Linked DNA regions of Homo sapiens. The protein of the gene in region 2 interacts with the protein of the main gene of each other region in a biochemical or structural test. Each region holds a gene or a part of one and is shown on either strand. Other genes may lie near its edges. The genes, in order: MKI67 and KIF15.

Evidence for each region.
Region 1: the proteins of KIF15 (region 2) and MKI67 form a complex in vitro, tested with the Homo sapiens proteins (one study listed by IntAct).

What each region holds. Positions count from the first base shown.
Region 1 is NC_000010.11:128,105,096-128,121,400, forward strand, and holds part of MKI67 (proliferation marker protein Ki-67), read right to left. Parts: intron 14,225-16,305; coding exon 14,158-14,224; intron 11,442-14,157; coding exon 11,396-11,441; intron 10,913-11,395; coding exon 9,833-10,912; intron 8,508-9,832; coding exon 8,332-8,507; intron 7,351-8,331; coding exon 7,038-7,350; intron 6,951-7,037; coding exon 6,832-6,950; intron 6,722-6,831; coding exon 6,550-6,721; intron 5,439-6,549; coding exon 5,283-5,438; exon of another isoform or gene 4,852-5,282; coding exon of another isoform or gene 4,758-4,851; intron 4,329-4,757; coding exon 1-4,328. UniProt on the Homo sapiens protein: Protein that associates with the surface of mitotic chromosomes and acts both as a chromosome repellent during early mitosis and chromosome attractant during late mitosis.
Region 2 is NC_000003.12:44,795,939-44,813,204, forward strand, and holds part of KIF15 (kinesin-like protein KIF15), read left to right. Parts: intron 1-1,612; coding exon 1,613-1,738; intron 1,739-1,895; coding exon 1,896-2,018; intron 2,019-3,256; exon of another isoform or gene 3,257-3,350; coding exon of another isoform or gene 3,351-3,353; intron 3,354-4,375; coding exon 4,376-4,499; intron 4,500-5,511; coding exon 5,512-5,588; intron 5,589-5,826; coding exon 5,827-6,036; intron 6,037-6,875; coding exon 6,876-7,053; intron 7,054-9,088; coding exon 9,089-9,230; intron 9,231-9,906; coding exon 9,907-10,048; intron 10,049-11,878; coding exon of another isoform or gene 11,879-11,947; intron 11,948-14,907; coding exon 14,908-15,105; intron 15,106-16,243; coding exon 16,244-16,351; intron 16,352-17,136; coding exon 17,137-17,242; intron 17,243-17,266. UniProt on the Homo sapiens protein: Plus-end directed kinesin-like motor enzyme involved in mitotic spindle assembly.

The DNA.
Region 1 (16,305 bases), on a different chromosome or scaffold from region 2:
TACGTCTGCTTTCCTGAGACTTCTCTTGGACTGTGGCTTGAAGATTGTTGGGGTACCCACTGGGTCTGGTTGTGGAGATCTGCAGGCTATTTTGGTAGTTTTCTCATGAGTCGTGGGCTTGTCAGTGCATATTGGTGTCTGGAAGAGCTCTTTCAAGCCAGCCAAGTCTTCTAGGGGTTGGGCTTTTCCCTTAGGAGTTCTTGGCTGCCTCTTGCTACCAGTTACACTTGCTGCTGGGTCCAGTTTCTGTTTTGCAGTTTCCCTGAACACGTTGATGCCTTTATCCTCATCTCCTGGTACTTTGTCTGTGTGTGTGGTCTGTGTGAGCTGCTTCAGGGCTGAGAGCTCTTCCACTATATCCCTTTTCCCCAAAGGTGTTTTGGGCCGCCTCCTTGTGCTTGTTGGAGTGTCCATTGATTCTGGTGGTGGAGATTTGCAGGCTATTTTGGTAGTTTTGTCATCAGTTGTTGATTCCTCAGTGTGGTCTGGTGTCTGGAAGAGCTCTTTGAAGCCGGCCAGGTCTTCTAGTGATTGGGCCTCTTCCTTAGGTGTTCTTGGCCACCTCTCCATCCCAGTTCCATAGTTTGCTGGGTCCAGCATCTGCTTTGCAGATTCCTTAAACGCTTTGATGCTCTTTCCATCTCCTGCTGTCTCTCTGTGTGTCTGTGTGGTCTTCCCTGACGTCTGTGTGAGCTTGCCGACTGGTAGGACCTCTTCTTTCACACCTACTTTCCCCAAGGATATCTTGAGTCGTTGCTTGGAGCTTGTTGGGGTTTTGACTGGGTCTGGTTGTGGAGATTTGCAGGATACTTCTGTGATTTTGTCATCGGTCATTGATTCCTCAGTGTGACCTGGTGTCTGGAAGAGCTCTTTGAAGCCAGCCAGATCTTCTAGAGCCTTGGCCTTTTCTTTAGGAGTTTGTGGCCGTCTCTTGCTGCCAGGTAAATTTCCTAGCAGGTCCAGTTTCTCCACTGGAGTCCCCACAAATGTGTTGATGTCTTTCTCTTCACCTACTGCTGCTTTAGGCGTGTGCATGGCTTTGCCTGCTGATGGTGTTAGTTTCCTGAATGCTAAAAATTCTTCCTCTACGTCTGCTTTCTTGAGGCTTCTCTTGGGCCGTTGCTTTGTGTTTGTTGGGGTGTCCGCTGGGTCTGATTGCGGAGATTTGCAGAGTATTTTTTTGGTAGTTTTCTCATCAGTCGTGGGGTTATCAGTGCATGGTGTCTGGAAAAGCTCTCTGAAGCCAGTCAGTTCTTCTAGAGCCTGGGCCTTTTCCTTACGAGTTTGTAGCCGTCTATTGCTGCCAGGTAAATTTCCTGGCTGGTCCAGTTTCTGCACTGGAGTTCCCAAAAACGTGTTGATGTCTTTCTCTTCACCTACTGCTGGTTTGGGTGTGTGCATGGCTTTGCCTGCTGATGGCGTTTGTTTCCTAAATGCTAAAAATTCTTCTTCAGTGTCTGCTTTCCTGAGACTTCTCTTGGGCTGTGGCTTGGAGCTTGTTGGGGTGTCCACTAGGTCTGGCTGTGAAGCTCTGTAGGATACTTTGGTAGTTTTTTCGTTAGTCATTGATTCCTTAGTGTGACTTGGTGTCTGGAAGAGCTCGATGAAGCCGGCCAGGTCTTCAGGGACTTCAGACTTTCCCTTAGGAGTTCTCAGCTGCCTCTTGCTGCCAGTTAGACTTGCTGCTGAGTCTAAGATCTGCTTTGGAGACTCCATAAATGCTTTCATGCTCTTACCATCTCCTGTTGGCTCTGTGTGTGTGTGTGTAGTCTCTCCTGATGTCTGTGTGAGCTTGCCAACTGCTAGGAGCTCTTCTTTCACGCCCACTTTCCCCAGGGATGTCTTGAGCCGTCGCTTGGAGCTTGCTGGGTTTTTGTCTGGGTCTGGTTGTGAAGATTTGCAGGCTACTTTGGCAGTTTTATCGTTAGTCATTGATTCCTCAGTGTGACCTCGTGTCTGGAAGAGCTCTTTAAAGCCAGCCAGGTCTTCTAGAGCCTGGGCCTTTTCCTTAGGAGTTTGTAGCCGTCTCTTGCTGCCAGTTAAGTTCTCTGTCAGGTCCAGTTTCTGCACTGGAGTTCCCATAAATGCGTAGATGTTTTTCTCACCACTTACTGCTGGTTTGGGTGTGTGCATGGCTTTGCCTGCTGATGGTGTTCGTTTCCTGAGTGCGAAGAATTCTTCTTCTACGTCCACTTTCCTGAGACTTCTCTTGGACTGTGGCTTGGAGCTTGTTGGTGTGTCCACTGGGTCTGGTTGTGATCTGCAGGCTATTTTGGTAGTTTTCTCGTGAGTCGTGGGCTTGTCAGTGCATACTGGTGTCTGGAAGAGCTCTTTCAAGCCAGCCAGGTCTTCTAGGGGTTGGGCCTTTTCCTTAGTTTTTGGGTGCCTCTTGCTACCAGTTACACTTGCTGCTGGGTCCAGTTTCTGTTTTGCAGTTTCCCTAAACGCGTTGATGCTTTTATCCTCACCTCCTGGTACTTTATCTGTGTGTGTGGTTTCCCCTGATGTCTGTGTGAGCTTCTTCAGGGCTGAGAGCTCCTTCTGTACGTCCCTTTTCTCCAAAGGTGTCTTGGGCTGCCTTCTTGTGCTTGTTGGGGTGTCTGCTGATTCTGGTGGAGAAGATTCGCAGGGCATTTTAGTAGTTTTGCCAGCAGCCACTGCTTCTTCAGTATGACCAGGGGTCTGGAAGAGCTCTTTAAAGCCAGTCAGGTCTTCCAGAGCCTGGGCCTCTTCCTTAGGAGTTTGTGGCCGTCTCTTGCTGCCGGTTAAGTTCTCTGTCAGGTCCAGTTTCTGCACTGGAGTTCCCACAAATATGATGATGTCTTTCTCTTCACCTACTGATGGTTTAGGCGTGTGCATGGCTTTGCCTGCTGATGGCATTAGATTCCTGCACGCTAAGAGTTCTCCCTCTACATCTGCTTTCCTGATACTTCTCTTGGGTCGTTGCTTTGTGCTTGTTGGGGTGTCCACTGGGTCTGACTGTGGAGAGTCGCAGGGTATTTTAGTGGTTTTACCAGCAGCCACTAATTCCTCGGTGTGACCAGGAGTCTGGAAGAGCTCTTTAAAGCCAGCCAGGTCTTCTAGAGCCTGGGCCTTTTCCTTAGGAGTCTGTAGCTGTCTTTTGCTGCCAGGTAAAGTTCCTGCCAGGTCCAGTTTCTGCACTGGAGTTCCCATAAATGCTTTAATGTCTTTCTCATCACCTCCTGCTGGTTTGGGCGTAAGCATGGCTTTCCCTGCTGATGGTGTTAGTTTCCTGAGTGCTAAGAATTCTTCCTCTACATCTGCTTTCCTGAGACTTCTCTTAGGCCATTGCTTTGTGCTTGTTGGAGTGTCCACTGATTCTGGTGGTGGAGATTTGCAGGCTATTTTGGTAGTTTTCTCATCAGTCATTGATTCCTCAGAGGGACCTGGTGTCTGGAAGAGCTCTTTGAAGCCAGCCAGGTCTTCTAGTGACTGGGCCTCTTCCTTAGGCGTTCTTGGCCACTTCTTCATTCCAGTTACACGGGCTGCTGGGTCCAGGATCTGCTTTGGAGACTCCTTAAACGTTCTGATGCTCTTGCCATCTCCTGCTGGCTCTCTGTGCGTGTGCGTGGTCTCCCCTGACGTCCGTGTGAACTTGCCGACTGCTAGGAGCTCTTCTTTCACACCTACTTTCCCCAGGGATGCCTTCAACTGTTGTTTTGTGTGTGTTGGGGTGTTTATTGGTTCTGGTTGTAATGACTGGCAGGGCATTTTAGTGATTTTGCCTTTCTCACTCTTTGGTGCCTTGGCATGATCTTGGGTTTGGAGGAGATTCTGGCCACGTGCCGTGTCTTTCATGAGTTCTGTATCAGGCAAGCTCTTGAGGTCTGTCAGGTCAGACATTGGTGCACATTTCTGCCCCCAAGTTCTTGATCTCTTCATTGCTTTCATCTTTTCATCGTTTTCTTTTAATTCAATATTTTCCTTATATGTCTCAAAAGGTCTTTCTATTTCCTTCATCTCTCCTTCTCTCCTTTGTTGTAGTAGTGTTGCCTTCTGACCTCTTTTTAGGATGCACTCAACAATTTCTGTATTTGTTTCTTCACTCTTACTTTCCACAGGTAGCTTCTGTATATTCCTGAACTCTGTAGACCTTCCTGACCTGTTTGCAGTGGATACTGTTTTTGAAGGCTCTGTCTCAGTATCTGAAGTTTTTGTCTCCAGAGAAGTCATTTTGTAGGTGTTCCTGGGCGTTTTTGCTACGTTTCCATTTTCTCTAATACACTGCCGTCTTAAGGGAGGGCTTGCAGAGCATTTATCAGATGGCTGTTTTGCTGCATTCTGTGCACTGAAGAACACATTTCCTCCTGAAATAAAAACATACACAATAAAAACATTCTATTAGTGTCTCATGTCAATCGAGTATTACAGCCTCATAAAATATGGTAAAAAACTAAATATTTAGCTTCGTATTCACTGAACGACATGAGGCTACTTATGTGTCTATAAATCTGTCTTATAAGAGCCATGCACAATTAAGAATAATGTTATTTGGTGCTATAGTGGGGTCATCATTAAGCAAAGTTAGATGCTGAAATGATCATAGAAGGTAAAAATACTGCTTCAGAAGGTTCCTCCAAAGGTTGCCATGCCCTGTGTCATTGACGTAAATATAGGCATTTTTTCCTTCAAACATTAGAAACAAACAGCTGTTTCTTGCCTTAAATCGCCAATAAAATAACATGGATTATCCTTATGTGGTTAGGGTCCATATTACACAGGAAATATTTACCTACCGCAAACATCTTCAGGGTAGCAAGCTGTTCCCTCTGTGACAGGAATACAGTGACCAGTGCCAAATGAGAGATTAGACAGATTCTCATCTCCCATCTCACACTTACCCCGGGCCTGCTCCCACCTAAAAGGTTAGCAGGAATAATTGCACAGTATACAAACTGTTATCTTTCTGTTTTGTAATTGGCAGTAATTTTGAATATGAGTAATTTATATGTAAATATGGTGAGACACCATTGTATTTTTTTGCTATGTCACCCTGGTTACTTACAATAAAGAAGCCAAAAGTGTACACAGGTCATTTACACACATTAACGGAGTCTTTCTTTCTATATAAGTCAATGAATGCCAATGTTAGTTCAACTGCTGATTGAAATCTCCCTTTCAATTAGAACAGAGAAGACGGAAATGGTATTTTGTGCCAGGAACATTTGTTTTAGAGAAGTAATATCATACTGCTTGTAAAAAAATAATACTGTATGTTCCTATCCCAAAACATCACAGTGTTAGGAAACAAGGAAACCAACCAAAACTCTCTGAGGTGGGGAGCAGAGGTTCTTCTCCTGAATCAGTTCCTTGAAACTGTTTTCCAAGCAAATTCTCTGAATTTGAAATAGCGATGTGACATGTGCTTGTCAACTGCGGTTGCTCCTTCACTGGGGTCTTGAACATTTCAGCTATTCCTGTTAAATGAAAATATTTGAAAAGTGATTGACATATTGCTAACATGCAGACAACCATCCCAGCCCTCACATGTAACGTGCAAATGGTGGGAAATAACAGTAGATTCCTCCCTTGAAATCCTGGTACATAGGCCTCATAAAAAGAGTGATTCCATTAATAATGTACTCATTTTGTAAAAAAGAGAGCACAGAGAAGATATGTTATGCTCTTCGCTTTGCTTTTCTTGGAAAGGAAACAAATGAAGTTAGCTGACCTCTGGGTCCTCCTAACAAGACCCCACACGTGAGCTCTGGAGCACGGAGGCTGGTGACGGGCTCCTGAGACCCATAGGCCTCCCTGCTAGGATCTAGAGGCCAAATGCCTTCATGCTTCTCAAAGTCTTGGGTGCTCAGTTCTAGATTTTAAGTACAAATAACACGTACCCACATTTTAGAAAATGACAAAGAGCTGCCCATTTTTAGTACTGTCAAGTAATAATATATATTTTTGAAAATCTAATATCATTATCATTCTGTTTGGAATGATAGGAGGCCTCAGCCTCCCAAAGTGTTGGGATTACAGGCGTGAGCCACTGCGCCGGCCATCCCCACTTTAAATTACACAAGTCAGGCCACAATTTACTGAGAGTGGGAATTGAATGGAAATATTTCTTCAACAATCGTTTATGGGAATCTTCTCATAGGGCTTTCTTTCAAGAAAGTTAAGCTACCTAGAAAGTCAATCCTGAAGAAGCAAAATGTTGCTCAACAACAACTGGCCCACACCTGGGATAAACTATTATTGTACCTGCAGATTAACAAGTTAACTCTCTTCACTGTAAAGCACCTTCCAGCTTTCTATGTATACGCTGCTCTCCAGGGTAAAGACATGCATTTGACATTTCCACACCTATTTCATGCAGGACATGTGATCCCAAAAATTAGCAGAGACTTGTCTTTGCAAGCCAAAACAGCTTTATCTTCCCTGAACACTAAGACCCCAGAAGGGTGATTGAGTCGTTTATTTTATAATCTCTTTCACAGCAGATAAACAAAGTTAGCAAAACAAACATTAACACAGTAAAAAACAGTAGAGTCAAAAGATTTATAAGATCTAAGACTACGTTTTTACCTGAAAGATCTTCCTTAAAGTCCATTTTTTGGTTGGAAATGAAGTTGTTGAGCACTCTGTAGGGTCGAGCAGGCACATGTACTTTTTCAGTATGAGCTTTCCCTATTATTATGGTACAAGGAGAGTTTGCGTGGCCTGTACTAAATTGACTGTGAACTTCGCCCACAGGCTTCTGTAGAAAACAGGAAGGAGGTAAACAGGACATTAAAGCATAAATCCACACTGAATGCAAGCTTCGATGACACCGGTATGTGTAAAGCAGCCATTCAGTGAGGCCCCTACCTTTGGAGTAGCAGGTCTTCTTTGCCTTTTGTTCATTGACCTTTGAGGACCATGTTTTATGACTTTAGTTTGTGTTTGTTTTGCACCAAGTTTTACTACATCTGCCCATGATTTTGCAACTGTCAAAGGGAAAAGACGAAACTTTTCAAAAATTAGCATTCATGAAAAAATTCACCTTAATATATGTATTCTAATGTCAGACTAACCAATCAGATTTGCTTCCGAAGCACCACTTCTTCTTTTGGAACATATCATCTGTAAAATATCATGTTGACTTCGGCTGATAGACACTCTCTTTGAAGGCAGGTTGCCACTCTTTCTCCCTCCTCTCTTAGGAACCTCTGTCTGAGATTTGCTGCTGGAAGCAGGGGCTGTTTTGCAGGACCTACGGCGTTGATCACTGGCAACTGGAGTTTTCCTAGGACTAGGAGCTGGAGGGCTTATAACCAAGCTTTGTGCCTTCACTTCCACATGGATTTCTGAACCTGACTCTTGTTTTCCTGATGGTTGAGGCTGTTCCTGACAAGACAAAATTGTTTACAAGAAGCCTTAACAAGGATCTAACATCTCTGGAATGACTGATAAAAACCTATTCAGTTAAGAATTTCAGCTGTTTAAATCTTGAAGCATCAAATGCTTAAGCCACTGTCTTTGAAGACTATGGTAGAGGTGAGACTGTCTCAGTCATTTAAGGAAAAGGAAAGAGAAGCAAGCCAAGTCTGAAGTGAGGTCATTTCAGGTAAAAAGGTGGAAGGAACATCCTGATCAGTGAAAGACAAGCAGGGTCTGATCTCAGTCCCAGTAAATACCAGCTGTGAGCACCCAGCCCCCGGCAGTCCACATGGAGGGAGGACTGCTTGCCCCTGGGAGCCAGTGTAAAATGGAAAGGGAGCCAGACATCACTTTCCACTCCTGCTGGGAAGAGAAGGAAAGAAAGACCGCCCAGGCCCTATTACAAAGGTTATGAGCTATAGGGCCATGACTTCCCAGAGGTGTGAAACCCAGGAAGGACAACACAGCAAAGGAACAGGCAAGCAAATATTCTAAAGAGCTGAAGGTGTAAAAGGAAGATGTGCCATTGATTTTCCTTCACACCAGGTAAATGCCTTAACTATAGCCTTGTAACTCTAAAAGAAAATAAAACAATCCTTATGGGTCGACGTGGTAATGTATCCAGAATCTTTGTAATTGGCTATTCTGACGGTGCCTGCAGGTGATTACGCAGTGCTGTAAGCGTGGGTGTCTGGGAACTTCTGCACGAAAAGGACAACATCAAGGACTCCCCCGACTCGGTCGCATCAGCACCACGGTCAGGGACCCAGGGGCTCCTTTGCTGGTGCCCACATCAATGAGCTTTCATTCGTCTTTTTAAAAACTTGTTTCTTTAATAAATAAATAAAGGTCTTCATCATAATTCTACTTGTGTCAGTATTTGGAAAGGAATAGGTACCCGGTGTGTGAGCCACTGGGCGTGAATGGGATGCTGCTTGTTCAACTCACCTTGATGATTTTCTTCAGGACAGGTGGAGTGTGCATTACCAGAGACTTTCTTTTGGTTGGGGCTTCTCCCCTTTTGAGAGGCGTATTAGGAGGCAAGTTTTCATCAAATAGTTCAGGTCTTAGGTGCCCACCAAAGGACACACGCCTTCTTTTCAAAGGTATTCCCTCACTCTCATCTAAAGTAACGGATACAAATGTGGAAAGAGCAATGAAAAAACATACCAAGACTAGTGATTTATTTCACGTTAGCATTAAAGACAAACCAAGTGAAAAGTCATCGAAACACAGTACCTACAGCACGCCTCTATTCTTGCAATCCTGGTGAAGCTAAGCTACTAAGAGTTCCTAAAGGATTGCGGGAGTGGCCACTAAGACGTCAAGTTGCCACTGGACAGTACAGAGGCTTTCTTTAAAACATTGAAACATTATGTGTGGACATAGAAAGGAGGAGTCTGCAGCAGCAGATTTCACCTTAGAGTAGGGGGACGACAGCCAGAGAACTCTCTAAAGACATGCACTTGGGTCTCAGCCTGAGCCACCCAGTGACCAGAATGCATGAGCTGTAAAAACTCCTCCAGGTGGTTCTGAGTCAATTCACAGGAGCCCAGTCCCGGCCACACATTTTCCTGAGCCACCAGTTAATGTAAATCCCTTGCCTAAGTGATGCTTCCCCACTAGGAAGCTTGGTGGAATACTGAGACTGATGTTACAAACCTTATTTTATCGACAGCCTCATGCCCCACCGCTATAGGCCACCTGCAGAAACACAGCCTGGAGTACGAATACTGCGTCTGTGGCCCAGACAACTTTTCTTCTAATAGCCAGTCCCTAGGAGTGTAGGAAGCTCCCGAGGAGCTACCACACCTGCTATAAAGGTCCTACCTCTGCCACTTCCTGACTGGCCTTGGGTTGTGCGTTTCCTCATGTGTGACATAGCTCTAAAAAGACAACCTAGCCACGGGCACTGCTATTGCACCAAGGATCAAGTGTTCATGTGGCATATGGACTCATGGGTACAGTCCAGTGTTTACAGCAAATTGTTTGTAGGACACTCTGAAAACAGAGTATCAACACCTGAGAACTACCGCTATGTTTAATGATTACCAGTGATTTATTCCACATGACCAAACTCATATGATACAGTTGATTGTAGTTCAGAATTAAACTCCATGTGAAAAGCAATTATGATTATTCTCTTTTCTATTTTGTGATAGATGGAGGAGAATCAAATATTTTTGGGGCCACCCTATCTCCTTCAATAACCCCTGCTTCATGATTGCCTGACAACTTCCATCTCTTCTGTCATTCCTTGTTACAATTACCTAGGCCTTCAGTATTCATCTATTAGCGAAAACAGCGTGCGTGTCTGTCTTATCCCTGTGCCTTATGTGCTTACATTCTCTTCCACAAAGCTAATCACTACTGAAAGAATGAAGGTCTCACAGCTACATAGAAGGTGTTCATCTTTTAGAAAAATAAATTTACAATTAAATAAACTTACTAATGGAATCACCAAAGTTGTTGATATCAACTGAACTAAGACCAGGTAACCCAGAGCACATCTGTCCAGCTGTAGTGCCCAATTTCTCAGGCTTGCTGAGGGAATCCTTTTGGATCTTCCTCTCAACTTGAGTGAGCCACAGAGTTAAAAATGGCTCATTGTGAATTTCAGTTTCCGTAGGCAGAACTTCCACATCTGTAGGAATACTTCCTCTGGTTTTGGAAGAGAGATTTTCTGGCTTAGTGGCAGAGTCAGCTGCATCTTCAACTTTAGCTGGTGTTCGATTTCTAGTTGAAAGCTTCCTGGGAGTAAGAGTTTTATCACCAGCCTTGAAGCCTTCACTTTTACCCAGATTCACAGATTCTCTTCTACCAGTAGTATACAGGTCTTTGTTCTTATGTTTTTGTGGAGAATTTTGTTGCTGTGAATATTGTACAGGGGTCTTCATTTTAGCCGGCTCATAGAGAGGAAAGCTGGCGCCCACAGCCTTGCTGGGAGTCTGAACAGACTCCACGTCTCTTCCCTTCCCCTTGTTCTGGTCAAGCTCTTGTTCAGGTGAAGCAGGCTCTGCCACAGCGTGGCCGCTCCCACCAGATTTTGGTCTTGACTTACGCGAGACCAACAGTTGGGTCTCCCCCTGTAAACCATCAGCACTTTCTTTCTCTGTTGCGTAATCAGTTTGTAATCCAGATTTTCTACAATACTGTAGGACATTTTCTTTTTGTGATTTTACATCCAACTCTTTCTTCACTGACTCATAAAGCTTCCAAAAGGGAGATTCATTTTTTTTGCTATTGTCAAGACATTGTGTAGTGGGAACAGACTTCAATTCTCCATAACGGCTCACTAATTTAACGCTGGAAATTTCTTTAAAATCCCCAGAAATGGGATCAGCTGCATTTCTGCCATTACGTCCAGCATGTTCTGAGGAATGAACATTAGTTGTTCCCTGAGCAACACTGTCTTTTGAGTCATCTGCGGTACTGTCTTCTTTGACATTCTTGATATGTACCTGAGGATTTCCTGAAACTTTTCCTTCAGTGATTTTTGAATAGGCCTTGGAATCTTGAGCTTTCTCATCTTGGCAATGAATTATGAAATAAGAAACAGAAGTTCAGCATTTTCTCAATGATTAACATTTGTGGAATTCAATATTTTAATTGTTTCAGGTTGTCTTATAAGCTAGCTTTTACTTGGCCTACAAATTATTTAATGCCTAAAACTTGCAAGTCTTATGATACTAGTATTATGATACAAATATATAAATCATATCAGCTCCAATAACCAGTATGAAATAGCACATGCTATCTAACTACTGAGAACTGAGTTGACAGCTGAACAGGCAATTTTCTCATATCTAGAGTCTCTCCTAAGCATAGCATACCATCAGTCACCAAGGGAAAGTTAGGCATCTGTCTGTCGTTGACATGTTAAATGACACCTCCTCCATTTCTGACAGGCTAGACATTTAGCACTTGCATTCTTGTTGCCCCTTCTTTGCCAATATGCTTCGCAAAGACCTGATCTTTCAGGATTCTGGAACAAAACCCAACCACTACTCACCAGGGTCAGAAGAGAAGCTAGATCTTGAGACACGACGTGCTGGCTCCTGTAAGTTGGGAAAATAAGAACAGTTATTTGCAGGTCTTTCTAAATGATGACAGTCACAACAGTGAAAATATTATTTATTGTTTTCTGGCTGGGCATGATGGCTCATGCCTGTAATCCCAGCACTTTGGGAGGCCAAGGTGGGCGGATCACTTGAGGTCAGGAGTTTGAGAACAGCCTGGCCAACATGATGTAACCTCATCTCTACTGCAAATACAAACATTAGCTGGATGTGGTGGCAGGTGCCTGTAGTCCCAGCTACTCAGGTGGCCGAGGCAGGAGAATTGCTGGAACCCGGGAGGCAGAGGTTGCAGTGAGCAGAGATTGCACCACTGCACTCTAGCCTGGGCAATAAAGCGAGACTCTGTCTCAAAAAATAAAAATAAAAACAATAAAAAATTGTTTTCTTTACCAAACCACTCGTATATGACTTTTAAAGACTGTTTGAGAAATGAGCTCAAGTCAGTTGGGAGCTAGTGGTCAGGATAAAAGTACTTATTAGCTGACTCATTAAAAAATAGTGAGTGATTAATAGGAAACAAATTCGAGGCTTAAAATTACTAAAATCAAACCTCGGTGTGTTTTTATAACTTCCTTTAAAGATATTTCCCAACATCCTATTGCGGAAGAACCAAAGTCAATATTAAACATCACCTATACTGAAGATCTGTAACCCCCCACGAGCTCAGAACTACTGACTGCGTCATCAGTTTTCTCATAAATGGGCCATAGGACCTGTCGATGAACTGAGGCTCCACTTGGCATGTGCGCCCTCTTGGCTGGTGGATACTTAGGGTGGATCTGAGAGCCTAGATTCACCCTAGGTAAATTCATGGTACAGGCACACATGGTATATTCACAGATTCTGCAACCTCACAGCCTGGGAGCAGGCGCAGCGCCCCCACCTGGCTCCCCAGAGACAGCGCCCTAACTTTCCTTCATATGGAATTATTTCCGGAAGGGTGGAAGAACTAAAGAATAACATATATATATAACTTTTATAAAAGTCTGATGCCCCAAAGGAAGAAAAGCTTATCATCTGGATTATTAAGAAAATATCTAAAAAATATTAACAAAGGCAAAGAATCTAACTTCCTTAATCAATTTTAGGTTTCTTGATACGTAACACCTTGCTTCTAAAACTATCTATGTGAGGGATGGTTTTTTATTTCCAATCTGAAGTGGAACAAGAATCTTATGACTAAACAATATAAATGAACCACTAATAAAATTATGAATATGTAAAGTATATAATCTCACTTTTGTTGTACGATTACATTCAATAGCCACAAAATTGCTGTCGAATTGCTGTCATATTTACTACATACTCCATTTCAGTACTCACTATATCACAGACCAGTAACAGAACAAACAGTTCCTAGACTGCTGAGTGGCACATATCTAACCCACAGTTCAACTGGCTTTTTGGTTTATTTACTCCCATAGACTAGCAAGTTGCCTGGTGGCTACAGTGTGGGATGCCTCAGAAACTGGCTTCCAGCACGGGAACTGATGACCATCAGATTCAACATTAAGGCTGCTCCTCTAGGGAAGAAGGCAGTACTTAAATGGCAGAAATGGACTGGGCATGGTGGCTCAAGCCTGTAATCCCAGCACTTTGGGAGGCCCAGGTGGGTGGATCACGAGGTTAGGAGTTCAAGACCAGCCTGGTCAATATGGTGAAACCCTGTCTCTACTAAAAATACAAAAATTAGCCAGGCATGGTGGTGTGCACCTGTAGTCCCAGCTACTCGGGAGGCTGAGGCAGGAGAATTGCTTGAACCCAGGAGGCGGAGGTTGCAGTGAGCCAAGATCGCACCACTGCACTCCAGCCTGGGTGACGGAGTGAGACTCCGTCTCAGAAAAAAAAAAAAAAAAAAAGGCAGAAATGTTGAAATTCAAGAGTACCTACTGCTAATTTCAGGTGCACCTAAGATAACTCTCCTAAGCCAAGATATTCCAAGGAGCTCATCTGAAACTAGCTTTAGGAGCACTCTAAAATGTAGGAAAAATATGAATTCTCAGGGCTCATCCTAAGCCTAAATCCCACTAAATTTCCAAGCACATGCCGACAACTGTGTTTTAATAAGCTGTACAACTAAAATACCTCTTCCACACTGATATACTCAAACTATCTAAATTGCGAAGCACGTGTCGACAATTATGTTTTCATAAGCTGTACAATTGGAATACCTGTTCCACACTGATACACTCAAACTATAGGATTCTCTCACAAGACAAAGCACAGGATCCCTTTTCCTGTTTCATGGGTCGTCTATCTATCAAAATAGAGAAGCATCTTTGGCACTCATGATTTTCATAATGTGATTATTTCAGACACATAAAGACGGATGAGTACAATGACTGGGCGACAAAATGAGCCACCAGATAATGCAATTCCCAAATGTTAGCTCTACGTGTTGGGGTTATCCTAATCATGGGTTTGCAAAAAGCTCGCAACATGCTCTAATAGACTTTTTGGCTAAAAGTGTAAGACCAACTTAGTGCTCTGATTTTGAACAATAAAGAGGAAATATCATTTTAGATTATTTTAATACGTCTAAGTTCAACTCGTTTTTATACTTTAGTTACATTTTCCTACTATAACAGTAACCACCCTCTTTGTAACTGATTTCAAGTAAGAAATCATTAAAGCATACATAAATGATTTCATATCATCGAAACGAATCAGCCCAAACTTGGATATTTTCTATCACCTGTTCACGTATTTTTCTTGGAAATTCAGTTGACTTCCTTCCATTCTGAAGACTTTCATTTTCATACCTGCAGTTTATAGAACGACAAAGATCCTGATTAAAAATTTATACCCTGGGGCGGAAGTCTCCATATCCACTTAATGTCCAAGGATCAACGAACAAACTTTGGGTTTAGTTCAAGACATCACCTTATACAAAGAAATAAATTTAGAGTTAGAAAAGTGCTTTTACACTAAAAACTAGGATTAGTTGCATCGAGTTTGTTTTGAAATACCACTGTCAGAGGCTGGGGACCCAGATTAACTTCTGATCACTGACGAACAGCCCAGGTATGATTTGACAATATTACCAAGCACCTTCTATGACATAAGCTAATGCACATGAGAGCAAAGTCAAGTTTCTTCTAGTTTAAGTCCATGGAAATCATCGGATGGCTTGGAAGGCCAGCCAGGAAGCCTGTAGGTAACTGAATCTTTCTCACGTTGTGAAGTTACATACTTCAGGGTAAATAAAAAGCTACACTTACACTACAGGGTAACTACAAACCTATATTTTAGAACACTATGATCACTTCAGTTTCCCACACATTCAGTCTGTATCTGAACAAGACAGGTACATCTTAAGAAGATCACCTTTAGCAAGATACATAATTGTCCTGGCAAACCTCAGTGATCAAGTCATAGAAGCAATCCTTTATTTTGCATAATGAAAACTTTTGGCCTCAGTGAAATGACCTGATTTGAATTTATAGGCAACCTAAGTAAGATCTGAAGCAGTCACACATCTGATATTATTTCTCATGGTAGAGAGTTTGGAATCAAGTCTCTCTTTCTAAGATTCACTTTCAAATCTTTGTTGGATGTCTTTAATCATCTGAATTTATCTCAATTTGGATAATATCTTGTTTTGAAAAATAGTTCAGCCCTCCAATAAACATCAAAAGCTTCCTACCTATAGGCCGGGCGCAGTGGCTCATGCCTGTAATCTCAGCATTTTGGGAGGCTGAAGCAGGTGGATCACTTGAGACCAAGAGTTCAAGACCAGCCTGGCCATCATGGTGAAACGCCGTCTCTACTAAAAATTGCAAAAATTAGCCGGGTGTTGTGGCGCGTGCCTGTAATCCCAGCTACTTGGTAGGCTGAGGCATGAGAATCACTTGAACCCGGGAGGCGGAGGTTGCAGTGAGCCAAGATCACACCACTGCACTCCAGCCTGGGTGACAGAGCAAGACTCTGTCTCAAAAACAAACAAACAAACAAACAAAAAGAAAAAGAAAAAAAGAAAAACTTCCTACATAGAAGTCTGTATTCAATAAAAATACTCTTTAAAAATGAAGGCAAACTTCCCAGAAGCACAGTAAAAGAAATGACTAGGGAATTTAAGTGGTGCATTAAAAAACAGCTAATACAAATGAAGACAATAACAGAGATTCATTTAGCAGAATGGATTTTTAAATGACCCAACTAATACGTTGTCTACAAGAGACGCAATTTTGATTCAAAGACACAATCTTTTAAAATAAAAGCATGGGAAAAGATATACCATGCAAACAGCAAGCAGAGGGGAACTGGAGTACTGTACTAACATGAGACAAAATCATCTCAGACAAAAGTTATTCATAGAGAAAAAGGACATTTTATATAAGGATCAATCCAGCAAGAAGATATTCCAGTTAAACACAAGAGGTCACCTGACAACAGGTTCCAAGAGACAACTTAAACCATAACAATTATGAAAAGTTAAAATTAAGGGGGTGGAAAAGTTATACTACACAAGCACTCATCAAAAGGAAATTAGTTTAACCATACTCATCATCCAAAGGAAACATTAAGCAGAAAAGAAAGCACTACTAAAAACAGAGGACATCTCTAAATGACAGAGTTCCATGCACCAAGACATCATTCTAAGTTTGTACACCATAGTACAGCCTCAAAATATACAAAGCAAAAACTGATAGAGATAAAAACAAATCAATCAATCAATCCTCAGTAGGTGATTTGAACATATCTCTTAGAATAATAGTAGGGGAAAATTTACTAAGATTATAGATTTGAATCTAACGGGAGTGTGTGTATCTGTATATGTGTATATATATTACATATTATATATGTATATATTATATATTATATAATATAAATATATTGTATA
Region 2 (17,266 bases):
GCAACCTCTGCCTCTCTGGTTCAAGCAGTTCTTCTGCCTCAGCCTCCCAAGTAGCTGAGATTACAGGCGCCCACCACCACACCCAGCTAATATTTTGTATTTTTAATAGAGATGGGGTTTCACCATTTTGGCCAGGCTGGTCTTGAACTCCTGACCTCAGGTGATCCACCCTCCTTGGCCTCCCAAAGTGTTGGGATTACAGGCGTTAGCCACCACGCCCAGCCTAAAGCTCATATTTCTATTGAGATATGAGGCTTAATAAATATAGCATATGGGTTGAGCATGGTGGCTTATGCCTGTAATCCTAGCACCTGGGAGGCTGAGGTGGGAGGATCCCTCGAACCCAGGAGGTCGAGATTGCAGTGAGCTGTGATTGTGCCACTGTGCTCCAACCTGGGTGACAGAGTGAGACTCTGTGTCAAAAAAAGCATATGCTTATAATAGGACATATACCAAGTCTGTTCTAAAATGCTTTACATATATTAATTCATTTAACCTTCCCAACAACTCTGGGAAGTAGGTGCTATTCTTTCTATTTTACAGTTAAAGAAACCGAAGTCACACAGCTAATAAAGGTAGAGCTGAGATTCAAACCGAGCTGCTACAGTACTCTCAACCATGCCACTAACCACCTTTCTGATTTACTGAATGATAACAGCAGTGACTCTGAATTCAGTACATCTTGCATTATAATTTTGACTTTTTCTCTTTTTTGTATACTCCTTCCACTGCAGACCCAGTTTTCAAAATATGCTACCTACAGTAAAAATCTAATGTAACGTATTTAGCTCATTTTTTCCCCCCACCAAGCTTCTGTTTTAAAGTAGTTTTTATTATCCTTTACAGAATTAAACTGAATATTCTCCTCAAATAAGTTCATCAGTGGCTTTGGGGGCTGTATGGGTGAGTTATTAGGCATTATACCCTTAAATATTTTAGCATAAAAGGATTGAAAAAAGTACCTATTAATGCACTACTCTAGCTTTTTTTTCCCTATTTTTTTCTGGTCTTTATAGCTCGGTTTCAAACTATTACAATCATGAAGTGACATTAATATTTTTTTTCTTTGCATGATTTTTGTGTTTGTCTTTTTTTGTTGTTGTTTTTGAGAGAGGGTCTCACTCTGTCACCCAGGTTGTAGTGCAATGGCACAATCTCAGCTCACTGCAACCTCCACCTCCCAAGCTCAAGTGATCCTCCCACCTCAGCCTCCCAAGTAGCTGGGACTACAGGCATGTGCCACCATGCCCAGCAGTTTTTTGTATTTCTTTGTAGAGATGGGGTTTTGCCATGTTGCCCAGGCTGGTATCCAACTCCTGAGCTCAAGCAACCTGCCCACCTCGGCCTCCCAAAGTGCTGGGATGACTAGCATGAGCCACAGTGCCAGCCTGTGTTTGTCTTCTAATACTAAAATTACAGTGTACATCAAATAGGAAAAGGTTAGGGATAGTTCAGCACTTCTTTTTTATTTGTTGAATAGTTGTTCTTTATTAACATTGTCCCTGACTTGCCTTTTCATCCAGAATTTTCCTCTGCTAGATATATTTTCATTCAAAATACCAAAGAGTAACCAACGTACCTAAATTTTTGTTCTTTTCCGTCAACACTTTAGGAAGCAGGTAACATAAATCGATCATTGAGCTGCCTGGGCCAAGTGATTACAGCACTTGTCGACGTGGGTAATGGAAAACAGAGACATGTTTGCTACAGAGACTCCAAACTTACCTTCTTACTACGGGTAAAGTAGATCCTTGGGTTCCTGGGCTCCTTTTGGTTATGCTAAAGTTGATAGTGGGACAGTCTCTCAGCCTTGGTGGCAAGAGTATACATTTTCTTTGCTTAAAAAGGTCTTGTGATTTCTCACCGAAAATATGTTCATTCCTATCATTAAACAGGATTCCCTTGGAGGTAATGCCAAAACAGCCATAATTGCAAATGTTCATCCTGGATCCAGGTGTTTTGGGGAAACCCTATCAACACTTAACTTTGCTCAAAGAGCCAAGCTGATTAAAAACAAGGTAAAATACTGGCGTATACTTCATTAAATAAATGAGAAAAATACTAAAGCTTACAGTATGCCATTTTTGTGATTGCCCTAATATTAACATTAACTTTTATTTATTTCTCATTGTATGCAAAATTTCTATTTTATCTTTCCTACCCTTCTATATCACACATGTAATTAGAGACCTAGGTTAGATCTTATGGTTGTTATTGCTTGACTAGTTTTTTCTTTTTTTTTGAGACACAGTCTTGCTGTGTCACCCAGGCTGGAGTGCAGTGGTGCAAACACAGCTCACTCTAGCCTCAACTTCCTGGGCTCAAGCGATCCTCCTGCCTCAGCCTCCTGTGTAGCTGGAACTACAGGCATGCAGCACCATGCCAGGCTAATTTTTTTATTTTTTTAATTTTTATTTTATTTATTTTTTATTTATTTATTTTTTTGAGACAGAGTCTTGCTCTGTCACCCAGGCTAGAGTGCAGTGGTGCGATCTCTGCTCAGCTGGGACTACAGGCGCCCACCACCACGCCCGGCTAATTTTTTGTATTTTTTAGTAGAGACGGGATTTCACCGTGTTAGCCAGGATGATCTCGATCTCCTGACCTCGTGATCCGTCTGCCTTGGCCTTAATTTTTTTATTTTTTGTACAGGTAGGATCTCACTTTGTTGCCCAGGCTCGTCTCAAACTCCTAGGTTCAAGCAGTCCTCCTGCCTCATCCTTTCAAAGTGCTGGGATTACAGGTGTGAACCACTGTACCCAGCTGACAAATTTTTTCTTAAGGGAAAGCAAATTAAGTATGTGAGTCTTTCTTCCTGCCAACAGCCAATCAATCAGTTCTGCAGCAGACATCAGCTGAGTGTCTTCTGATTCAGTTCCATCCTGACACTTTATGTCTGGAGATAGGGTGAGATCTCACAGGTTCAGGGCTCAGTCCTACAAGACTGCGCCCAACTTCTGATGCCAATTGCAAGCCCCAGCTTGTCCTATCTGTGCTTTCAGACCAACTGGCTGTAAATCAGGAGGTCCATGTTGCCCCTTTCCCTGGGTAAATCAGAAGACTATAGATCTAGTCATTTATTTTATTTCCTTGGACTATGGAGTACTAGTAAGATGAGGAGGAAAAATCATTAGAGCTTCCTGACCCTAAGTCTCTTAAGATTTACTAGAAGTCTTTGGAGATATAGAACTGCAGCAATAATTAGAATTATGAAGTCACTGATGGGACAGTGATGTCAGAAGTGCAGTAGTACCTTGTAATGAGGCTGGCCATAAGAATCAGAAGCAACTGGAAATGGCTGCTTAACACACAAAAGAACAAAACCAAGAGCCTTCTACTAGTCACTCTCAATGGTAAGCCCTTTGCAGCCTATCAGTGGAAAGTGCCAGAGTATCTGGGACTTGTTTAAGGATGTGCTATTTAAATTTTTCCGTGAGCAAATTGGGCTTACAGCGAGAATACAGAAGACCTTGGGGCTGTCACAGGGTGTTTTTTCCTTGCTGGAGTACTGAGTATTTCACAACTGAGTCCTCTGACCTGGTTGGTACTCAGCTGTTGGCACTCGTTATCACCCTTTAGGCTTTGTGGACCTTTTTAAAGCTTTATTTTTTTAATTAATCAACTTTTTTTTTTTTTTTGAGATAGAGTCTCGCTCTGTCAACAGGCTGGAGTGCAGTGGCGCACATGTGTGACCTGCCCCACTCTTGACATCCTGCCCCACAGTGGCACATTTTGTTTGTGAGTCCTTTAGCCTTTTAGAAGTTGTCCTAAATAAGACATTTCTTTAAGAAAATGAAGATAATCATTTAGTGTGGTAAAAAATTAAAAAAAAAAAAAAAAAGGAAGTGTCAAACCAACCCCTCCTTCCAAGAGGGCTGTTAAAAAATAAAGGTCGGATTCCTCTGGAGAAGGTTGCTTCTGCCAAGCTCAAGCCCACCCTGCAAGTCATCATGCACTTAGAGGCTAGGCTCCTTCCCCGTAGGGAGCTAGGAAAGAAGGGAAATGATACTCACTGAGGTATTGGCTCTTCTCCATTGGGAGGGTGGGGGAAGGCTGTCGTTCTCAGGGAAAGAAGTATTAGGTGAACACACCCGGATCCTAAGGGTGACCCAGCCTAAAAGCTCAGGGCTAGTCAGCTGGGGGGCAGAGAGCCTGGCTGGGGCTGTCTCTCTCTGGCTCCAGGTCTGAAGGCACAAGAAAAGGAAGCTTCCTCCCCACTTGAGCACACTGTGATTCCTGTGTCCTTTTGACTATGATGTGGTCTTGAAGTTTTGTTTGATGTTCATCACTACAAATCATACCAAACAAATGTAAACACAGGACTATACTACTCAAAAAGCATTATTTTAATGCTTTTTAAAAAATTCCTGAACAGGCAGTAGTAAATGAAGACACCCAAGGAAATGTGAGCCAGCTCCAAGCTGAAGTGAAGAGGCTCAAAGAACAACTGGCGGAGCTTGCTTCAGGACAGACACCACCAGAAAGCTTCCTGACCAGAGGTAGGATGAGCACACAGTCCTTTATCTTGGGGAAGACTGTACAAATAATAGTTTAAGAGCCCTTGGTGATAGACACAACACAATAAGGCAACCCAAATTTTTCTGCAGGTATCTCTTTCTGCTTATTTCTCCTATATAGGAACATAGTGGTTTGTTTATAATCAGATACAGATACCATAGGCAGTGAGAAGGGGGAATTAAAATAATTTTGAATAATGTATAAGTGCTAAAAAGAGATTAATTTCATTTAGATCTACTTCTACGTAGCATATGTAATCTATATATGTTTACTATAGGATAAGAGAGACTTATTTTTCTTCAAAGAATAGCTAGTAGAGAATTAATTAACTGGAAATCCATAAAGGCAAGAGGGTGAATTATTAACAGATCTTAAGAGGTGCACAGCACCCTGGGACTCCTCTAATTTTTTAAAAAATCTACTTCTACTTCTGTTACACCATGTGTAATCTATTGTGCATATTAACTAAATAAAGAGAAACTTATTCTTTGAAGAACGACTAATATGTGGAATGGTTAATTTGAAATCCGTGATCTAGTGATGACGGTCTCATTGTTTTTTTTTTTTTTGAGACGCAGTCTCTCTTTGTCACCCAGGCTGGAGTGAAGCAGTGTGATCTCAGCTCACTGCAACCTCTACCTCCTGGGTTCAAGCGATTCTCCTGCCTCAGCCTCCTGAGTAGCTGTGACTACAGACCCACGCCACCATGCCCAGCTAATTTTTTTGTATTTTTAGTAGAGATCGGGGGCGGCGGGAGGGGGGGGTCTCACCATGTTGGCCAGGCTGGTCTCGAACTGCTGACCTCAAGAAAGATATCCGTCTGCTTCAGCCTCCTAAAGTGCTGGGATTACAGGCATGAGCCACTGTGCCCGGCCACAGTCTCATTCTTTTAGATTAGTTGAGAGCAATCAATTAAAGGCTATCTGTTCTCTTGGTTTTGCAATGTGATAAATATTTTTTTTCATCTTCCCTTTCTTATTGGATCAATTACAGACAAAAAGAAGACTAACTATATGGAGTATTTCCAGGAAGCAATGTTATTCTTTAAGAAATCTGAACAGGAAAAGAAGGTAGGAAATGGAATTAGTAATAAAGGAGATTCAAGATAGTTAGTTTTTTGCTGTGTGGTTTTTATTGCCTTACTAAGTGAAATAAATAATACCAAGTCAATAAAGTAATGGAAGGCTATGAAAAATCAAATTTTGCCTTTAAGATTAAATATGAAATTAGTATTTGTTGCTGGACTTACGAAAATTTAGGGAAGTCAAATTATTTTTCATGTTTAACCAAATTATGAATTTCTTTAAGTCTCTGATAGAAAAAGTTACCCAATTAGAAGACCTCACCCTCAAAAAGGAAAAATTTATTCAATCTAATAAAATGATTGTGAAATTCCGAGAGGATCAAATAATACGCTTGGAAAAGCTCCACAAGGAATCCCGGGGAGGTTTTCTGCCTGAGGAGCAGGATCGTTTGCTCTCAGAATTAAGGAATGAGATTCAAACTCTGCGAGAACAAGTGAGTATACGGCATCTATAATATTTCTAAAAATAAAAGAAGTTCAAAGCAAATCTAAGTTTGTCAGCAAGTACTTGTTCTTTAATACAATGGAAATTGTTTTAAGTGAATTCTTCTGACAGTGTGATTGCATAATTCCTTTACCTGTCTTTTTAAAATAGTTAAAGGGAAGAGAAGGGGAGAAGGAAGAAGTTGTGGTGACATTGCTACATAGTATGCTACTCTAGCAGGCCACGCAGAATTTCACCCAGTGGGCAGTTGTGGTTATCTGAGTCAGTAGGCTCTTTAGGGTTGTGCCTTTTAACGTTTTTGTTGTTTTTCCTTTTCCTTAGGGAGAATGGATAGGTCATACAGGTACATTGTGGGAAAACCCAAAATCTCTTATCAGCTTCTTGTTTATCTCTCTGGAGTTTTTAATGAATATTCAAACTAATATGGGTGGATATTTGTACTTTTGTTTCTCCTGTACACTTTTTTGCACTTCGCCTTTTTCAGTTAATCTTGGTTGACAAGATTAATTTGGTCCTTGTTCTTTTCAGTGTGTTGATTTAACTAGTCTCCTTTGCATGAAAAGCCTGCCACAATGTACACCCTTGTGCTTACCTCCTTAGGTGGGTGAACATTTCAAGGGTCTAGACTCCAACTGAGAATAGGAGAGTTACAGGACATGCATATTTTCAAACTGATCACAAATGCCAAGTTGCTTTCCATGGTGGTTGCAGAAGGGTACCACCAGTAGTGCATGTGCATACCTAGTTTTCTAATGGCTTTTTAGAGGAACTAATTCACTAAGGAAATGTTTGTAAATATATAATGCGTGTAATTCTTCTATGTCACAGATAGAGCACCACCCCAGAGTTGCAAAGTATGCTATGGAAAATCATTCCCTCAGGGAGGAGAATAGAAGACTGAGATTATTAGAGCCTGTGAAAAGAGCTCAAGAAATGGATGCCCAGACCATTGCAAAACTAGAAAAAGCTTTCTCTGAAATAAGTGGCATGGAGAAAAGTGACAAAAGTAAGAAATGATTGTTGTATATACGTGCCATGTAGGAAGGGGCTGTTTTAAAGAGCATTTTTAGTGCCTTGTGACTAGGGTCTTCATTTTAGCCTCCAGGCCTGCTATGCTAATGTCTTATACACATATTCTTTTATATTATAGAAAGGTATTTACTAAACTTTTCTTTTTCTCAAAAATCACAGAGCATAAACTACGTAAGCTAATAGATATAACGAGAAAATACTCATTGTATTTGTTTTATTGATAAAAAGATTGATTCAGATACTATGTTAAATTTTTACTAAATTTTCCTGTTTAAAGTATTTGAAATGAAAAGTCTTTAACTAATCAAACGTGAATAAAAATAGAGTTGAAATGTTTATCAATCTAATTAGTCCTGTGCAGTATAAGAGATATAGAAAGGTCAGACTCATAGCACAGTGTTTGGGTCCTGATGTTGTGTTTGGGTCCTGGTATTGTGGTTACCAATGTATGCAGTCTCTAGTTACATACTACTTTCATAAGTTTGCATACTATGTGAAAAGTGGTTTAGTTAATACTAAATCTGCCTTACAGTCTTGACAGCTGTTGGTGTTCATACCCTGGGATTTGGTAACAAAGTCTGTGTTTGCCCCAGTCTTAGAGTTAATATTTTCACGGTCTTTTATCATAGACTTGGCCTTGGTTTCCTTTTAGGTTGAAATTGAAAAAGTTCTAATGTTTTTATTCTGCATTCATAAAGAAGACTGTCTCTTTGCTTTTTAAAATTTCATTTTTTAAGCCTTCTTCCATTCTGTTATGACTGAATAGAATAATAAGAGTCACAGTAACTGGGTTGGGGAGAGACTTAAGATATTAGATGCAAAATTACTATCAGGTTTTCTGTTGTTTTTTTTGAGATGGAGTCTCACTCTGTCACCCAGGCTGTAGTGCAGTGGTGCGATCTCGGCTCACTGCAACCTCCACCTCCTGGATTCAAGCAATTCTCCTGCCTCAGGCTCCCTCCTGGGATTACAGTCACACACCACCACACCGAGCCAATTTTTGTATTTTTGGTAGAGATGGGGTTTCACCATGTTGGCCAGGCTGGTCTTGAACTTCTGGCTTCAAATGATCCACCCACTTCGGCCTCCCAAAGTGCTGGGATTACAGATGTGAGCCCCAACGCCTGACTTAGGTTTTCTGTTTTATTTAAACTACTTTTCCCTACAGTGCCCTTTATTTTGTTGGCCATTTTGTTGTGGCCTCCATAATACCTTGACTTACTCCCTTCAGAAGATACTAATGTCTGGATCTCATCAGTTTCTAAACATTGATCATTCTCTAAACAACTTTTACATGATCTTTTCCCACACTGAAACTCAGTGGACTCTCTTCAACATATTCAGTGTTCTAGGCATTTCCTGAAAATTAATATTTTCTACCTGATAGATGATACCGGGTTCTTACAACCTGCTGCCCTTGCTATTTGTTTCCTTTTCTAAATAATTCCTTGGCTGTTAACATTAGCTGCTAGCACTAATTCCTACAAGATTCACTGGCTGCTGTTTCTCTGTCTAGCATTAGGCGTGCCACACTTTCGTCATTGTTTGTTCTTTCTCCTAATGGGAAAGGTGTTGCCTTAACTACACTTCTCCATCCTGTGGCATCTGCTTCTTAAACATGACTTCTAATCCCCTTTGGCACACTGTGTCACATCCTGTGCCTTCTGCTGAGTTATAAGCTTTTGTATTTTAGGGCTCGCTTTCCAACCCATTTCTCACTTTTCCTCCTTGTGGCCCAAAATTGATACCTGACAGAGAACTTAGAAAATGTGTCCTGTTATTTTTGCTTGTCAAACACTGAAGTTGTAAAGCTAGGCATGGTGGCATGCACCTGTAGTCCCAACTATTTGGGAGGCTAAAGCAGGGGGTTCACTTGAGACCAGAATTTGGGGCTTTAGTACACTATGATCATGCTTGTGAATAGCCACTGCACTCTAGCCTGGGCAACATAGTGAGGCCCTGTCTCAGAAAAAAAAAAAAAAAGACTGAGATTGTTTTCTTATTAACAGATCAGCAAGGATTTTCACCTAAAGCTCAGAAAGAGCCATGTTTGTTTGCAAACACTGAGAAGTTAAAAGCACAACTCCTGCAAATTCAGACAGAGCTGAATAATTCAAAGCAAGAATATGAAGAATTCAAAGAACTTACTAGGTAAAGTCTAAATACACATGCATGCACACTTATTTTCTTTCAGTGTTCATTTGCTGTAGTGTTAATATCGATAATTCAATTGGGCATTTTACTTTAAATATTAAACTCTCATAGCAGCAACTACTTTGACATGAAGAGAAAGAGCATGCTTCTAGCTCTTTACTAATATATTCAATGAACTAGGTAATACAGGTGTTTTAAGCAGTTTTTTCCTGTTGAGAGTCTATTGAACTTGCATAGTAAATTATTTAAATTTAAATTTGATAATCAGAGTTGTTAAGACTTTTAGGAAGTATAGGTTTGTTAATATTCCTACTTGATTCTCACTATGTAAAAACAAAGATAAATCACATTCATATTATAACTAAGATCAATCTTACCCTAAAATATAAACAAATGTTTGGTTCAAAAATGACATATCACATATGGTATAATCATGGACTATTTGTTTGGGCTTTTGAATTTGAGCCCTACCATTTACTAGTTGAATCCCTTAAACAGTCTCTGAGCTGTAGTTTACTGAACTGGAGAATGATGGGAATAATCTGAGAGAATAGAGAATATCTCTGATTTAGAGATAACTATAAAGTTATGTGAGAGCATAAACTGTAAAGTATTCTATAAATGTTTGACATTACTTATTACCTGAAATACTCCGTTTTACAATATCTATTAGGAAAAGGCAGCTAGAATTGGAATCAGAGCTTCAGTCTTTGCAAAAAGCGAACCTTAATCTTGAAAACCTTTTGGAAGCAACAAAAGCCTGCAAGCGGCAAGAAGTTTCTCAGCTGAATAAAATTCATGCTGAAACACTTAAGGTAGGTCATCTGAACAATACCTCCACCTTAAATCAGTGCAATGTCATTTTATTAATAATGGAGAGAGTCTGCATGGTCTATCTCCAGATGCAGATGACATCCCATGCAGGTAATTAACACCGGTGTCACACTGGTCTTTGGGTTACTGCTAGCAATCCCACTGATGTATCCCCCCAGTGGTAGGGTGGGGTAGGAAAGAATTCAGCATTTGCAATCAAATTCGAATGTGCCATTAACTTTAGTCAGGGTTTCCTAACTTCTGAGCCTTATCTTTCTTTTCTCTAAATTGGAAATGAAGGTAATTTACTTGCAGAGTTTTAGAGTACTAAATGAGATAGATAAGCTGCCTGGTACCTTGTAGATATCAGTAAAATGGCAGCTATTACTACAATATAACATGTCCTCAAAGTTTTCAGTAGAATAGAAACCCTAATGGGCAAAGACCGCTAAGGGATCACAGGTGCCACTGGAAATAACATGAGAGGGTTTTGTCCTAAATAACCACATCCCTCATAAAAGAAAAAAAAATGTGTGAACAACTGAGAATGAGGAGAGAGAAAGGAAGTACACAAGGAAAACAAAAGGTTGAGGAGGTGATACTGATTTCAGCTTTTGTATCCAATTTTTTGAAGGTTAAAAAATTTTTTCCTTAGCTGGGTGTGGTGGTGCAGGCCTGTAGTCCCGGCTGTTTGGGAGGTTGAGGCAAGAGGATTGCTTGAGCCCAGGAATTCAAGTCCAGCTTGAATTCAAGTTCTTTTCTTTTCTTTTCTTTTTTTTAAGACAGAGTCTTGCTCTGTCGGCCAGGCTGGAGTGCAGTGGTGCAATCTCAGCTCACTGCAACCTCCGCCTCCCAGGTTCAAGCGATTCTCCTGCCTCAGCCTCCCGAGTAGCTGGGATTACAGGCGCCTGCCACCATGCCCGGATAATTTTTGTATTTTCAGTAGAGATGGGGTTTCGCCATGTTGGCCAGGCTGGTCTCGAACTCATGACCTCGTGATCTGCCTGCCTCGGCCTCCCAAAGTGCTAGGATTACAGGCAAGAGCCACTGCGCTGGCCTCAAGTTCTTTTCAATAAAAGAAAGAAATAGAGAAGACCGAAAACCTTTCCTTATATGTCTTAGAATATAAATAGATGTTTATTTATAATGATTATTTTTAGTAGTGGTGCTTTTTGTGTCACTTAATGGAAGACTACTTGTATTCATTTGAATAGGTAATTTATGTGACTGAAATTTCCTTTCTTTTCTTTTTTTTTTGAGACGGAGTTTTGCTCTTGTTGCCCAGGTTGGAGTGCAGTGGCACGATCTTGGCTCACTGCAACCTCTGCTTCCTGGGTTCAAGCGATTCTCCTGCCTCTGCCTCCCGAGTAGTTGGGATTCCAGGCGCCTGCCCCAACACCCAGCTGATTTTTGTATTTTTAGTAGAGACGAGGTTTCACCATGTTGGCCAGGCTAGTCTCGAACTCCTGACCTCAGGTGATCCGCCCGTCTCGCCTCCCAAAGTGCTGGGATTATAGGTGTGAGCCACCGCGCCCAGCCTGTGACTGAAATTTTCAAAGGCATTTAGTAGCAAATCTCTTTCCTTCTGTTGTTCTTCCAGCCAACCAAGAACTGGAGGCAATCAGTGTCACCAAGTCAATCAATGTCACCAAGTATTTTCTCACTTTACACAAATGGTGGCATAACATACACATCATTCTACAGCTTGAGGGTGTGTGTGTGTGTGTGTGTGTTTTAAAGCAATATTTTAGAGTTTGTCCCATGTCTGCAGGGGAAAAAATGTTCTCCCCCTTTTTGTTTCTGTTTTGATTTTTTATTTGTTTTGGCAGCAGCTCAAGAATGTTATGTGGATATATAATGATTTATTCAACCTGGAAAATGCTGGGTTTTTTCCTATACAGGTAGAAATTTAAAAATTATTTTTAAATTTTGATTTATTTTATTTATTTATTTTTGGTTTTGTTTTTTAGAGACAGAGTCTTGCTCTGTCACTCAGGCTGGAGTGCAGTGGCATGATCATGGCTCACTGCAGCCTTGAACTCCTGGCTTCAAGTGATCCTCCTGGAGCCTCAGCCTCCCAGAGCACTAGGATTACAGGTGTGAGCCACCATGCCTGACCAGAATTTTTTTTTACTGTTGCTTTTTAAAAAAGGTGGTCTTTGAAGTTTTTGTAAGAAATTATTGAAAAATACTTGCAGAATACTGCCAAATGTTTTATAATTCTGTGTCTGTAGCCCCTTAGCACAATGGAATTATAGAGCTTGAAGCACCACGGCATTCTCGTCCTACTTCTTCCTTTTATGACTGAGCAAACAGGACTCAGAGGATTAGGTTTGCCAGGAGGGGCATAGCAATTCAGAGTCTTTGTTGTTGTTTTAGTTGGACAACTACTATATGAATACATTCTCTTTGTTTAAAAGAAAGACACATATTTCAAGTTAAAGTTAAAATTCCTTTTCAGCATCACTTCCAATCTGGATCTAATATAATCCTTTGTCCCCACAATCCCTGGAGGTAGTTTAATCCTTTTTCTTAGCATTTTTGTACTGTTAATATATACAGACTGAGAAAACACATAGAGTTGTTTCCTAGATTGTGTATTGTTTTGCTTTTTTTTTTTTTTTTAAAAAAAAACGGTCATTCTTCATGTGTTATTCCACAATATGCTTTTGTTAACTCAGGGATATGCCTTAGATCTTTCCACATTAACTGGTACCTAGAGCCTCATTTGGATGTGAGGCTCAAGGAATATGAGCCTCATACCAGTTAACGTGAGGCTCAAGGGTTATGAGCCTCATACCAGTTAATGTGGAAAGATCCAAGGCATCTCCTTTGAGGGACAGAAGAATTATAGAGCTTGAATTATAGAGCTTGAAGCACCATGAGGGATATCCCCTTGGGGGATATGCCTTGGATCTTTCCATATTAACTGGTACCTACCTCATTTTAACCCTAGGTTTCTATGGCTTAAGTAGATGGTTTCCAGTGCGTGCATTCTCTGGGGGTGGATTCCGTTAAAGGAGAAGTGGTCATTTTAGGATGTCTTAGCATTTGAGTGAGTCAAGCTGAAGCTCCCTCCTAGTGCCCTGTTCCCGCAGCATAGATGCATAGATGCACTCCTTTCCCAGCACTGTCCGCAGGAACTGGGATTGTCATGCTTGTTAATGTTTGACCATCTGATGGGTAAAAAATGAGATCTTGTTGTTAAGGTTTTAATTCTCATTTCTCTAATTTCAAATATCTTTTCATATGTTCATGTCCATTTGTATATCCTATTCCCTGAAAAGAAAAACTATTGTTTTTTTATATTTTTCTTCAGATTTTGTTTTTATGTAATAAGCATTTGTTTGTTAGGTGTACTGCCAATATATTCCTCCATCATGTTGCTTGTCTTTCATCTTTGCATGTGATGCTTTTGTTATATAGAAGTTTTATATTTTTGATGTAGCCAGGTTTATTGACCTTTTATCTTTATGACTTTTTTGCCTTTAATTTTGCTTTACATTGAGGTGTTTGTGTATCCACTGTTTTTCTTTTGAATGGTATGAGAAAGGGATTTAACTTAAAAAAAGTAATACAGCTAGGCATAGTGGCTCACACCTGTAATCTTAACACTTGGGGAGGCAGAAGCAGGAGGATTGCTTGAATCTAGGAGTTCAAGACCAGCTTGGGCAACATAGTAAGACCCTACCTCTGCAAAAAAAAAAAAAATTTAAATTAGCCAAGCATGGTGGTGTGCACCTTTGGTCTCAACTACTCCTGATACCTAAAATTTCCACAGAAAGATTATTCTATTTCTGGGCGGGGTGTGGTGTCTCACGCCTGTAATTCTAGCACTTTGGGAGGCCAAAGCGGGCAGATCACTTGAGGCCAGGAGTTGGAGACCAGCCTGGCCAACATGGTGAAACCCCATCTCTACTAAAACTACAAAAATTAACCAGGCATGGTGGTGTGTGCCTGTAGTCCCAGCTACTTGGGAGGCTGAGGCAGGAGAATTGCTTGAACCTGGGAGGCAGAGGTTGTGGTGAGCCAAGATTACACCACTGCACTCCAGCCTGGGCAACAGAACAAGACTGTGTCTCAAAAAATAATAATAATTCTATTTCTGGACTTTGTATTTCCTCCCAGTGTTCTATTTGAATGTACATAAGCTAATGTACTGTTTTAATATAATGTACTGTAATGTAATGTACTATTTTAATGACCATACTCCCATACCCCTATGTATTTTTATATCAGATGGGGAAGTCTTCCTAATTTGTTCTTTTTATTTTTATTTTTTTGAGAGACAGGGTCTCAGTCTGTCACTCAGGCTGGAGTGCAATGGTGTGATAATAGCTCACTGCAACCTAGAACACCTGGGCTCTGGGGATCCTCCTGCCTCAGCTTCCCAAGTAGCTGGGACTACAGGCCTGGGACACCATGCCCAGCTAATTAAAATGATTTTTTTTTTTGGTAGAGACAGGATCTCACTATGTTGCCCAGCCTGGTCTTGGACTCCTGGCCTCAAGTGATCCTCCCCTTCTCAGCCTCCCACGGTGTTGGGATTATAGCCATGAACCACCATGCCTGGCTTGTTCTTTTTAATTGTCTTGTCTCTTCTTGTACATTTATTCTTTGTATGAAAATAGATATCAGCTCATTAAGTTTATTTTTAAAAATTGTATTAGAATTTTGCTTGGGACTGCATTGAATTGATAAATTTATTTCCACTTGGGCATTTTTGTACTGTGTCTCAAGGGTACTTTTTCCTTTCTTTTCATGAATAGTATTTCAATTTTATCCTCTCTATTCACAAAATTATTAAATATGCCCTTTTTAAATATGTGCTAATGTTTTCCATAATCATTTTTTGCTGCAGATTATAACTACACCAACCAAGGCCTACCAACTTCATTCCCGACCAGTACCAAAATTAAGCCCTGAAATGGGAAGCTTTGGCTCTCTATACACTCAGAATTCTAGCATATTAGATAATGATATATTAAATGAGCCAGTTCCTCCTGAGATGAATGAACAAGCTTTTGAGGCCATTTCTGAAGAGCTTAGAACAGTGCAGGTAATGTTTTGTTCTAGAAAAAATAAATAACTGGACATCCATTTAAATACATTTGCTTTGTTATTTTAATTCCCTATAAGTTACAGTGTTCAAAAGTGCTTAGTATTAAAATCATATCTTTTTAAGTGTGGGTTTATAATCATTCCTAGATTGGAAATCAGCCCACTCTTGCTTTTTGTCTCTACTTTACAATCTTTAGCAAGTCATTCTCCATGGGTTTTTGTTCCTTAGTGTATAAAATGACCAGTTGGCCACTAGCTCCAAGTTCCAGAACTGGTTTATATAGCAAAGTGCTGTATCTGCTAAAAAAAGTTAAAAGAGGCCGGGTGCGGTGGCTCACGCCTGTAATCCCAGCACTTTGGGAGGCTGAGGCAGGCATATCACGTGAGATCAAGAGTTTGAGACTAGCCTGACCAACATGGTGAAACCCCGTCTCTACTAAATAGACAAAATTAGCCGGGTGTGGTGGTACATGCCTGTAATCCCAGCTACTCGGGAGGCTGAGGCAGGAGAATTGCTTGAACCCGGGAGGCGGAGGTTGCAGTGAGCCGAGATCGCGCCACTGCACTCTAGCCTGGGCAACAAGAGTGAAACTCTGTCTCAAAAAAAAAGAAAGTTAAAAGAATCTTATTATAGATCAAATTTTAGACAGTTTTTAATATATTTGAAATAATGTGAAATTTGATTATTCCAGAATTTTTATGGTTTGTTAATTTTTTAAAAAGGTTTTCTACTGTCCAGTAAAAGTTGGAGTGGGCCAGACCACCCCAAACCCCAGTATTTTGTCCTTTCCAGGCCATGGAGGTAACCGCTTGCAGCCCTGAGGAAGCTTCTTAGAAGTCTCAAGATGGCTCTGTCATGTAATCCAGGATTTTAATTTTAATCACTTCTTTCCTTTGTATTTCAAAGTGTCTACTTTAATGGACCACAAGTGTAAATCTGAAACATTAGCAATCATTTAGTATATAACCTTTTGATGATGTTTTCTGGCTCCAAACAGGCCTTTGATACCTTTGTTCATATGAGGTTTTGAATTTGTTTTGTTTTGTTTTGTTGTCTCTTTAATGCAGACGAAATGGTGGAATGTTTGAGAATTCCATTAAAATAAATTTTGATGACTGAAGTTTTTGTGTTGCAGGAACAAATGAGTGCTCTTCAAGCCAAACTGGATGAAGAAGAGCATAAAAACCTAAAGCTTCAGCAGCATGTTGACAAACTGGAACATCATTCTACCCAAATGCAGGAGGTGAGACCAAGAGCACAGCCTCAGAAAATGTATGAAGTACCCTCAAATGTTACCTTGAGGAAACATCCTCAAGGATCCTCAAACATCCTTGAGTATGCATGAAACATATTCAGAGAGTATCACAGAAAGAAAATGTTGTCACATGGCCTTAGTGAAGGCTTATTTGAGCTGTATTCTCTACCTTGTTACTTAGCATGCTGCTCTGATAATGAGACAGGCATGCATAGTCTAAACCTGGCTGACTTAGTCAATAATGCAAATGGATCCCTTGCTATGTGTTTAGAAGAAACCAAGATGGACTGTCCATGGCTTCATAGTTGTTAATCATCTTTACTGTAGTTCATGGGGACAGCCAATTTTCTTCTGGTCAGAGACGTTAAAGCTAGACTTTAAAAACAGGGACAGGTTAATGGGGCCAGGCACAGTGGCTAACACCTGTAATCCCAGCACTTTGGGAAGCCAAGGCAGGTGGATCGTCTGAGGTCAAGAGATCAAGACCAGCCTGGCCAAGGTGGCGAAACCCCGTCTCTACTAAAAATACAAAACTTAGCTGGACGTGGTGGCGTGGGTCTGTAGTCACAGCTACTCAGGAGGCTGAGGCAGGAGAATCACTTGAACCCAGGAGGCGGAGGTTGAAGTGAGCCGAGGTCGCATCACTGCACTCCAGCCTGGGTGACAGAGCAAGACTCTGTCTCAAAAAAAAAAAAAGAAACAGGTTAATGATTTGGAGTGCATCTTAGCATGCCAGTATTCCTTTTCCAGTAAATTTATCTTTTTTCCCAAAGCTTTTCTCATCAGAAAGAATTGATTGGACCAAACAGCAGGAAGAGCTTCTCTCACAGTTGAATGTCCTTGAAAAGCAGCTTCAAGAGACTCAAACTAAAAATGACTGTAAGTTATTCTATCAGGAGCTTT